2 separate regions of the Homo sapiens genome follow, and region 2 is linked to region 1. Evidence: fine-mapped expression QTL. A gene starts in region 1. The other region holds a variant in brackets. All regions are shown on one strand. Distances are from middle to middle.

What was found. PIP is the estimated chance that this variant, and not a neighbour inherited with it, causes the effect. A credible set is the group of variants that fine-mapping cannot tell apart.
Region 2: its variant is the best candidate, but not a certain one, in a credible set for the expression of BTNL8 in spleen (GTEx, PIP 0.56).

What each region holds. Positions count from the first base shown.
Region 1 is chr5:180,896,568-180,900,972 of GRCh38, forward strand. BTNL8 (butyrophilin like 8) reads left to right here and starts at 2,592. Exons shown (of 8, transcript NM_001040462.3): 1 at 2,592-2,792. The coding sequence starts at 2,744.
Region 2 is chr5:180,983,159-180,987,563 of GRCh38, forward strand. It overlaps the pseudogene ARPP19P1. Among named protein-coding and RNA genes, the nearest start is that of BTNL3, 3.5 kb to the right of the region's middle. The variant T/C (reference allele first, on the strand shown) is at 1,913.

The sequences.
Region 1 (4,405 bases):
ACCTATGAGTGAGAACATGCAGTGTTTGGTTTTTTGTCCTTGCGATAGTTTACTGAGAATGATGATTTCTAATTTCATCCATGTCCCTACAAAGGACATGAACTCATCATTTTTTATGGCTTCATAGTATTCCATGGTGTATATGTGCCACATTTTCTTAATCCAGTCTATCATTGTTGGACATTTGGGTTGGTTCCAAGTCTTTGCTATTGTGAATAGTGTCGCAATAAACATACGTGTGCATGTGTCTTTATAGCAGCATGTTTTATAATCCTTTGGGTATGTGCCCAGGAATGGGATGGCTGGGTCAAATGGTATTTCTAGTTCAAATCTTGCTGACTTTTAAAAATGTTATATTATTATTATTATTATTATTATTATTATTATTATTTTGAGATGGAGTCTCACTCTGTCAACCAGGCTGGAGTGCAGTGGCACGATCTCGGCTCACTGCAACCTCCACCTCTCAGATTCAAGTGATTTTCCTGCCTCAGCCTTTTTGGGGAGAGTCATGTTTCTTTGCTTTTTCATGTTTCTTGTGTCCCTGTGTTGATATATGTGCATCTGGTAGAACATTTGCCTCTCCTAACTTATAAAGTAGCTTTTCTAAGAAAAAACTTTCACTTGTTGATAGGTCCTCGGGTGCTGAGTAGGGTGTATCGGCTCTGCTTCTGGCTGGCACAGTAGCGTAGTCTCTGTGAAGCTTCTCAGCTATAATCAATGTCAGTGACAAGTGGATGCCTCAGTGGCCCGTACTGCAGTAATTTGTGGGAGTGGTGGTAGCAAAGTAGATTACACTGAGCTCAGGCACCAAGAGAGCACAACTACTCCACCAGCTCAGGTACAGCTTCCCTCGGGTGGGATGCAGGGCTGGTTTGTGTGCTGAGGGAATAAGACCAGTGTTCTGGCTTGGGCATAGCTTTTCTGGAGGTGGGGCACCAGGCCGCTTTATGTGCCAAGGGAGCACAGCTGCTCCACCATCTCAGACATTGCTTTCCTGGGGCTGAGTCTGGGGCCCCCAGTTAGTGTGCACACAAGGGGGTATTGTTGCCATTCTATTGCGCATGCTTCTCTGGGGTCAAGGTGCTTGGCTCATGCTTGAGAGGGTACAACTGCTTCACCAGGCCAGGCTTGGCTTCCTTGCTGGGTTGGACTGTTTGGTCCTTGGGGGCCAGAGCAGCCTGTAGGTTCAGAAGCCTGGGTCATGACCGTTCCACTGGGCCTAGGCCTAGGCTTCGAATGGCCATGGGTGGGGCATAGCTGCCACTGGAATGGAGAGGATACTGTGCCTTCTCAGCAGCTTCATAAAAAGGTATTTTGGTCTATATATCCTTGGTAAATCTGTATTTCTGAGACAGCATGAGATCAATAATTTTCTATTCTACTCTCTTGCTTACAACATTCAACAACTCATTTCCTTTTTTTTTTTATCACAGAGTAATATTCCATTGTATAGATGTACCATAGTTTGTGTATACATTCTATGTATCATTATTGAATGATATCTGGTTGCAAACATTTTTGGCAATTATGAATAAAGCTGCTATAAACATTCATGTGCAATTTTTCATGTGGACATATGTTTTCAAGTCATTTAGGTGAATAAAAAGCAGTGCAGTTGCTGGATTAGGTGATAAAAGTATGTTTAATTTTGCAGGAAATTGCTGAACTGTCTTCTAGAACAACCGTACCGTCTTGCATTCCTGTCAGCAATCAGTGAGAATTCCTGTTGCTCCGCATCCTCACCAGCATTTGGTGTTGTCAGTGTTCTAGATTTTAGACTAAATGCAGTGTTTTCATTTTGTCCTATTCTAGATGCTAACTTTTATTGTGATTTAGTCTCGTGAGTTGTTTTAAATTGTTACATAAGAATTTCTTAGTGTATAGAGTTTCCTATGTTTTTGAATTACTTTTTAATTTTAATTGCATTATGATTAGAGTATGTTTATTTTGATGGTTATCTGTGGAAATTTTCATTCTGATCTAGTTAAGTGGTGACTTTGTGAGTTTCCGTGTGCTTAAAAAGACTGCAAATCTCTCATTGTGGCTGCCCTGGAACTTAGTTTATATAATAAATAAGTTTCCTCATGTCTGAACCTGCCCAGGCACCTTTCCCAATGTATCAGATGTTTAACACTAAGGATCTGTTTTGTTCTGGAAAGTTATTTTTATCTGGCCTCATGATTACAGTCCTGGCCCTGAACTTCAGAGAATGGAGGGGTAAGCAAAAGGACCTCAGACTGTGCCAGGAAATGTCAAGTCACCTGCTGTAGGCTACTACTAATGGAGCATGGCCTATTTACTTGGACACCAAACTATCCAGTGCTAACATGAGGTTTTTCAGGACTAGATCCCATGGCCATACAGCCCTGCCTGCCAGATTGGACGTGAAAAGTATTTCCGCATCTGACATTCCTGTTTCACCCACACAGGGCATCGTTTTGCCCAGGACAAAGTTCACCTCCAATCTTATCCACACTATTTCTATCTTTGCTTCCTTGATAAGATATAGACATTTATGCAGTGGTTCAAAGTCTAGAGTCCCTACACTTCTGGTACATGACAGCTGTGTCTCGATGGAGTAGACTCTCAGAACAGCGCAGTTTGCCCTCCGCTCACGCAGAGCCTCTCCGTGGCTTCCGCACCTTGAGCATTAGGCCAGTTCTCCTCTTCTCTCTAATCCATCCGTCACCTCTCCTGTCATCCGTTTCCATGCCGTGAGGTCCATTCACAGAACACATCCATGGCTCTCATGCTCAGTTTGGTTCTGAGTCTCCTCAAGCTGGGATCAGGTAAGACTCATCTTTGTTTCCTCCTTACTAACTAACAGTTTGAGTTCTTTAGCTACAATGGTTGCAGCATAATGGAATGAAGGCATCTTTGTCGTTTCCATTCCTTTGGCTTCTCCTAGCCTCAGCCTGGGGAAGGATCAGGCGCTGTGGAAACAATTATAGTAGCCCCCAAATAATGGAAACACGGGTGTTGAAGACGCACCGTGATCGTTGACGGGGACACACCTAACGTGTTAAGGTGAATAAATTCAGTGTTTCTCCCAGATGGGCTGAGTGGTGTAGGCAGGGTTATTGGAGCACCAAGGTTGCTGACATGGATGTCCATCTGGGAAGAGACACAGTTAGGATTTTTGGGGAAAAGACAATGTATCCAGCTAAAGACATGCTGAGTTAGAAATGTCTGTGGTATGAGACACGAGGGTGGAGGAAGGTGTACAGGTCTTGAGGTGAGAAATTAGCTGAAACCTGGCATATTCTGGGAAGAAATCCACTCTTCTTTCTCCTTCCAGTTACTGTTAACACAGAACCTAGTATATAGGATGTTGAGTGACTGAATACAATTCACAGAGGAAGCTTGAGGTTGGGGTAGAATGCTGGTGGCTAGATGGTCAGTACCCAGCCACAGAAGATTCGATTGACTGTGTTCACTTTCTGTCTGTGAAGGTTCATCCTGCCACCTGTCCACCTATATCTTTTTTGCTAAATGAAGCTAAGAAAACAGAAATAAGGGCAATCAAAACATAGAGCATGTTTCCTTAAAACAAAAACCCATATGTGTTACTAACAGGAGACGCTCTCGTTTCAGTTTGTTTTCATTTATTTTCTGACGAGCTTCTTTGTTTCCCTTCTGTTTCCGGGTGAGGCAGCAGGACATCCTGGAAATGATCTTGGAGACAGAAACATTTTATTTTTAAAAACTCTTATTTCATTTTCTTGTGAGCTTTATTGTTCACAGCTTCCTTAGGTGTTGGTTTGCTTATGATGACATGGAGATACGATCACATTCCTGCTGGGGCTGTGGTGAGGACTGCATGAGCTTGTGCATGTAGAGTGCACACAGCTGCACGGGTGCATGGCATGTTGCAGCAACAGTCTTGTTCCTTTCTTATTTTCAAGGGAAGGAAGTGGAAGGAGTGAAAGGAGATGTTATAGGCAAGAGAGGTGACAGCAGCAAGGGCTGGCCGGAGAAATGGAGGTACCCTGAAAAATGTTTCCTTGCCTCAAGAGCCCCACACAGCCCTGAAGGCAGCATCCATAGCAGCCCAGCTGGCATACGCTGGGTCCCCAAACCTGACCTAAGACAAGGGCCTTCCTGCCAGTGATTCGTTGAGCAGGTGATTCTGGGAAACAAAGTGAGGGAGTGGAGAGAGTGAAGCCAGTAGGGGGAAAGCCATAGAGGGTGCGCTAATGAGCGTTGCTGCGGTGGCAACTGGGACCCAGTCCCACTGGGACCTTTGGAGGAACTTTATAGATGGTGGCTCAGAGTCATTCCAACATCTACTGTCTCCTTTCCCCACTGGGTGAGATGTGCCGCCCAGGACTGCTAAAATCGCAAACCTTCTGAGCTGCCTTGTGCCAGGGCTAAGTAGGTTCCAAGGGTGGCAGGAAGCCCT
Region 2 (4,405 bases), 87 kb after region 1:
CTTGGGCAATATTTGCCCATTCTGGTGTAACTTATGTGACCCTAGTGCTTAACAGCTGCCGTCGAAGCTAATATTCTTATTCAGTTCTGTAGAGTCAGAATACCTTTTGTTGTTGAAGATGTGCAATGACTGTTGAATTCACTTTTGTGCCATTTTTGTAAATACAATAATTTTGCACAACCTCTCACAAATGCCTATATTTATTTCACATACTTAAAAAGTAGATAATGTGCCAAGCAGAAGCACAAGAGGTCCTACACAAAACTCTGTAAGTCATTATAGCTTTTGTATAATAAGAGTAGTTTACAATCTCGGGCTTATAGAATACCAAACTGAAATCTTAGTTCAATCTGTCATAGACTTAAGCTTTTCATTTGTTACTAATATCCATGGCATTCAGTGGCCTTGTGCAAATACGATATGTTGCTTAGGAATATCTTTTGTCCTATGCAGAACCTTTCATTTTGATTTTTATGAAAGTTGCAATTCATATAATTTATATAAACTTTTTAAATGTAGAAACTTTTTACTTCCACACTCAACTTTGGAGACACTAGAGTAAAAGGCTTCAATACTCTGCATTCTATGCCCCCTGCCACCTGCTTTTTCCCTTTTGTTCTTCGACTCAAATGGTATTGGGTTGTTTGTTCTATACGAAAGCATAGGTGTCTATATCCTTACTCTTTTAAATAACACAATAATGATGTTTTCCTTCTAATTTCTCAGTTGTTAATCTCTCTCTCTCTCTCTTTTTTTCTTGAGATAGGGTCTTTCTCTGTCACCTAAGCTCTAGGGCAGTAGTGCAATCATAGCTCACTGCAACCTTACTCCTAGGCTCAAGCTAACTATTCTTAATCCTTTATTATTACCAATATTCTACAATTGTTTAAATAAAAGGAACTTTATAATCAAACAGTACAGAATACTGGCTCAAGAACCTATGTCAAGATGAGCTGAATTTTGGTACATTATTTTAGGAATTATGACAAGCTAATAGAATTGGGCTTGTGACAATGAGAGTAATTCACATGACAGGTAAAACTTACTCATATTAAAAATGTTTAGATATTTGCTTCTATAGATGTCACTTTAATAAAATAACAATTTAGTTTTACTTGTGGCTTACCTAGTTAGCAAGAACTTTAACAGACTTTATTGGGACAAGCTTACTGCTCTTGTAGGAGCTCCTCTCACAAGTAGTTGTAATGCTGTACCATGATACTCAGGATCAGTAACTTCAGATGTTACTATCTTTCTCTTCATCTTTGACTTGCAGAGAGCCTCCTCTTTTTGGATCCAGGCATCTTTTCTGAATCCTGGTTCCATTAGTATACCTGCTCTCCTATGATCCCAAATCATAGTCAATGGTGCCTCCAACATAGCACCTTCAGTTAAAGGCTGCCTAGTGCTCTGAGGAAAGCTTACTGATTATCTTCCTGCTCTACTCACCCCGAAAGGCAGAAAAGCAACATAGTCACTCCTGTGCTCATTTGTAATTGTAAAGATCAGAGATATAGATATTTGTAATGAGAGCAAGTATATACTCATTATAGGATCAATTTAAGAAGTTTAAAATATCCCAAAGTAGAATTTCTATATCTAGTCTTCTGGGTTTTTTTCACGAATATTTGCAAGTGATTACGCTTAACTTCACACATGAAAGATTAATCTGAAAGGTCAGAGAGACCCTGTTATTCCTGACCACGATAGAACTGCTCCTGTGGTTTGGGACAAGTAACAAAACAACTGCTTGAGTTTTGTTTGTAAAATACACTATTAATATTTGACCTACCTCAAAACGTATTGAGGATCTGTGAAACACTAAGTGCCCAAAATAAAATATTGCTGATTGTCTTTTTATTAAAAGTAAATTTCCTCATTAAGCCAACCGGCCTTCTGTAAGTCACAGTGC[T/C]CAAGTCTCAGGGTTTGTCATTAGGAGAGGTCTGTCGTTAAGGATTTGTAGGTGTAATTGCCTAGCCTCCATTATTGGTGATTGCGATAGAGAGGTTTTACATTTTTCTGTTTTTCATCCTGCCCCAAAGCTCAGTTTATTGAAGACATTTGTAAGCTATTGGATCATCACTTGAATCAAGATTTTGACTAGTGAGCCCAATTGTCCCTTTCTTATTATTTCAAAGCTATAGTCTGAGAAATGGCTAATTTTAATAACTGTCCTATCATAAATTAATGTTGGAATAAACTGAAGTTGGAGATGAAGACTTCATGAAAACTAACTAAAGTCTGAAATAAATCACCTGTTTTATGTCCAATAGCTACTGCCTTTGATAGAACAGTTTTGAGGAACATTTCATTCTTGAAGGCAGCATCCGACATGGTTCTCAGCAAATTGGAATAGTAAGGATTGTTGGGTTGTTTCGATGAGTGGAAGCAGCGTTTGTAGCATAAAAGTTATTCAATAATCTTGTGCTGTTGACCTGAAAATGTGTCTTAACTATTCATCAAGGCAAGCCTGGTGAAGCCTTTACTTGTTACTACTTCAACAGTTGGAATTAGTTGCTCTTTTTACTTGATGAAGCAAAACTATACCTCTGAATATTTATGGATGCTTTTTACAAAATCAGGCTTGTGTTCTTAATCCGAATTAGTAAAGTTTTATGGAAGCTGAAATGTAATACAGTAGTCTCCCCTTATCTGCAAGAGATACAGTCCGAGACCCCTAGTAGATGCCTGAAACCTCAGATAGTACTAAACCCTGTATAGTCTATGTTTTTTCAATCTGACAACCAAGGCGGCTACTAAGCGACTAAGGGGCAGGTTGTATACAACCTGTGTGGATAAGCAGGACAAAGGGATGATTCACATCCCAGGCAGGACAGAGGAGGAGGATCATGAGATTTCATCACTACATGGCTTGTGATTTATTTTATTATTATTTTTTTTTTTTGAGAGGGAGTCTCGCTCTATCACCCAGCCTGGAGTAGTGGTGCGACCTTGGCTCACTGCAGCCTCTGCCTCCTGGGTTCAAGCAGTTCTTCTGCCTCAGCCTCCCAGGTAGCTGGGAATGCAGGCGCCCGCCAACATGCCCAGCTAATTTTTGTATTTTTAGTAGAGACAGGGTCTCACCATGTTGGCCAGGCTGGTCTCGAGCTCATGACCTTAGGTGATCCGCCCTCCTCGGCCTCCCAAGGTGCTGAGATTACAGGAATGAGCCACAGTGCACAACCAGCTTGTGATTTAAAACATGGTTTATTTCTGGAATTTTCCACATAATATGTTTGGACCAAGGTTGCCTCGGGTAACAAACTATGGAAAGTGAAATTGCAGATAAAGGGAGTTACTGCTGCTGTGCTCTAAAATTGGTGTTTGGGTGATCAGGAGTGGGTAGCCAATGGGAAGAGGTGATCAGGAGCAGGTAGCCAATGGGAAGAGGTGATCAGGAGCGGGTAGCCAATGGGAAGAGGTGATCAGGAGCGGGTAGCCAATGGGAAGAGCACTTCTGAGTGATCACCAAAGCAGTTTCTTTAGTGGTCTTTTCACATTCTCCAATGTTCAAGCATATTTTCCACTTTCCATTTTCTATTTCACCTCATTTTGCCTCATCATCTGCCATCCCTGCTTATTTCTTAAGCCTACTGATGGCACTCACTAAATTGTGTTTAGGGCTAATGAATCATTGTTCCTTAATATCCTTTTCAATATGCCACAATTTAGAATGCATTTAAAATTTTCTAAAACAATATCCTACTCTGAATATTAACTAATTTGAGCCACATTCCCATCTCTAACTCAGCACAAAGTGCCAGTCTTCCCCAATATCTCCTCTCAACTCCCCACCGCACCTTATAAAATTGGAATCAGAAATCTCACTCTGTCATTGCTCATCTTAGAATAAAAACACTGATTTTAATACTGTTTTACTAGTTTCAGCCTTCTAAGTACGTAGGCCTCTAGGTATTCTGCAGATCACTGGTGGTCTTGATAGCCATTCATATATGTTCGTATTATGTTATTTTTCAACTAAATCGCAATTGGAAAAAAACATCTTTAATATTATGCCCTTGGATCTGTTACTTCATTACTAATACTTGTGATGCAATAGGACACTTCACCTGTACTAAAAGGGCCAAGAGTAAATGTCTTGTTTTGTTGTTGTTGTTAAACATGTCTACAGAGTTGGCAGTTAATGCTGAATTTGTCAAATAGCTCTTCCAAAATTATACTTGTATTTAAAAAATAAATGGATCTACCTAATTTCTATTCATCTAATTTGCAGTTTTGTCTTATTAAAGTGGTATGTTTTTCAATGTATTTTTTTCTGAAGTTGATCTCTTTACATTTCAGCTATTACTGTAGGCAGAAAGAAATTGACTTGTAATCTTTGATTTTTTTGCATTTGTAATGGCTTTGTACTTAAGGTAGGATTACATGTTTACAGATTGTGGGG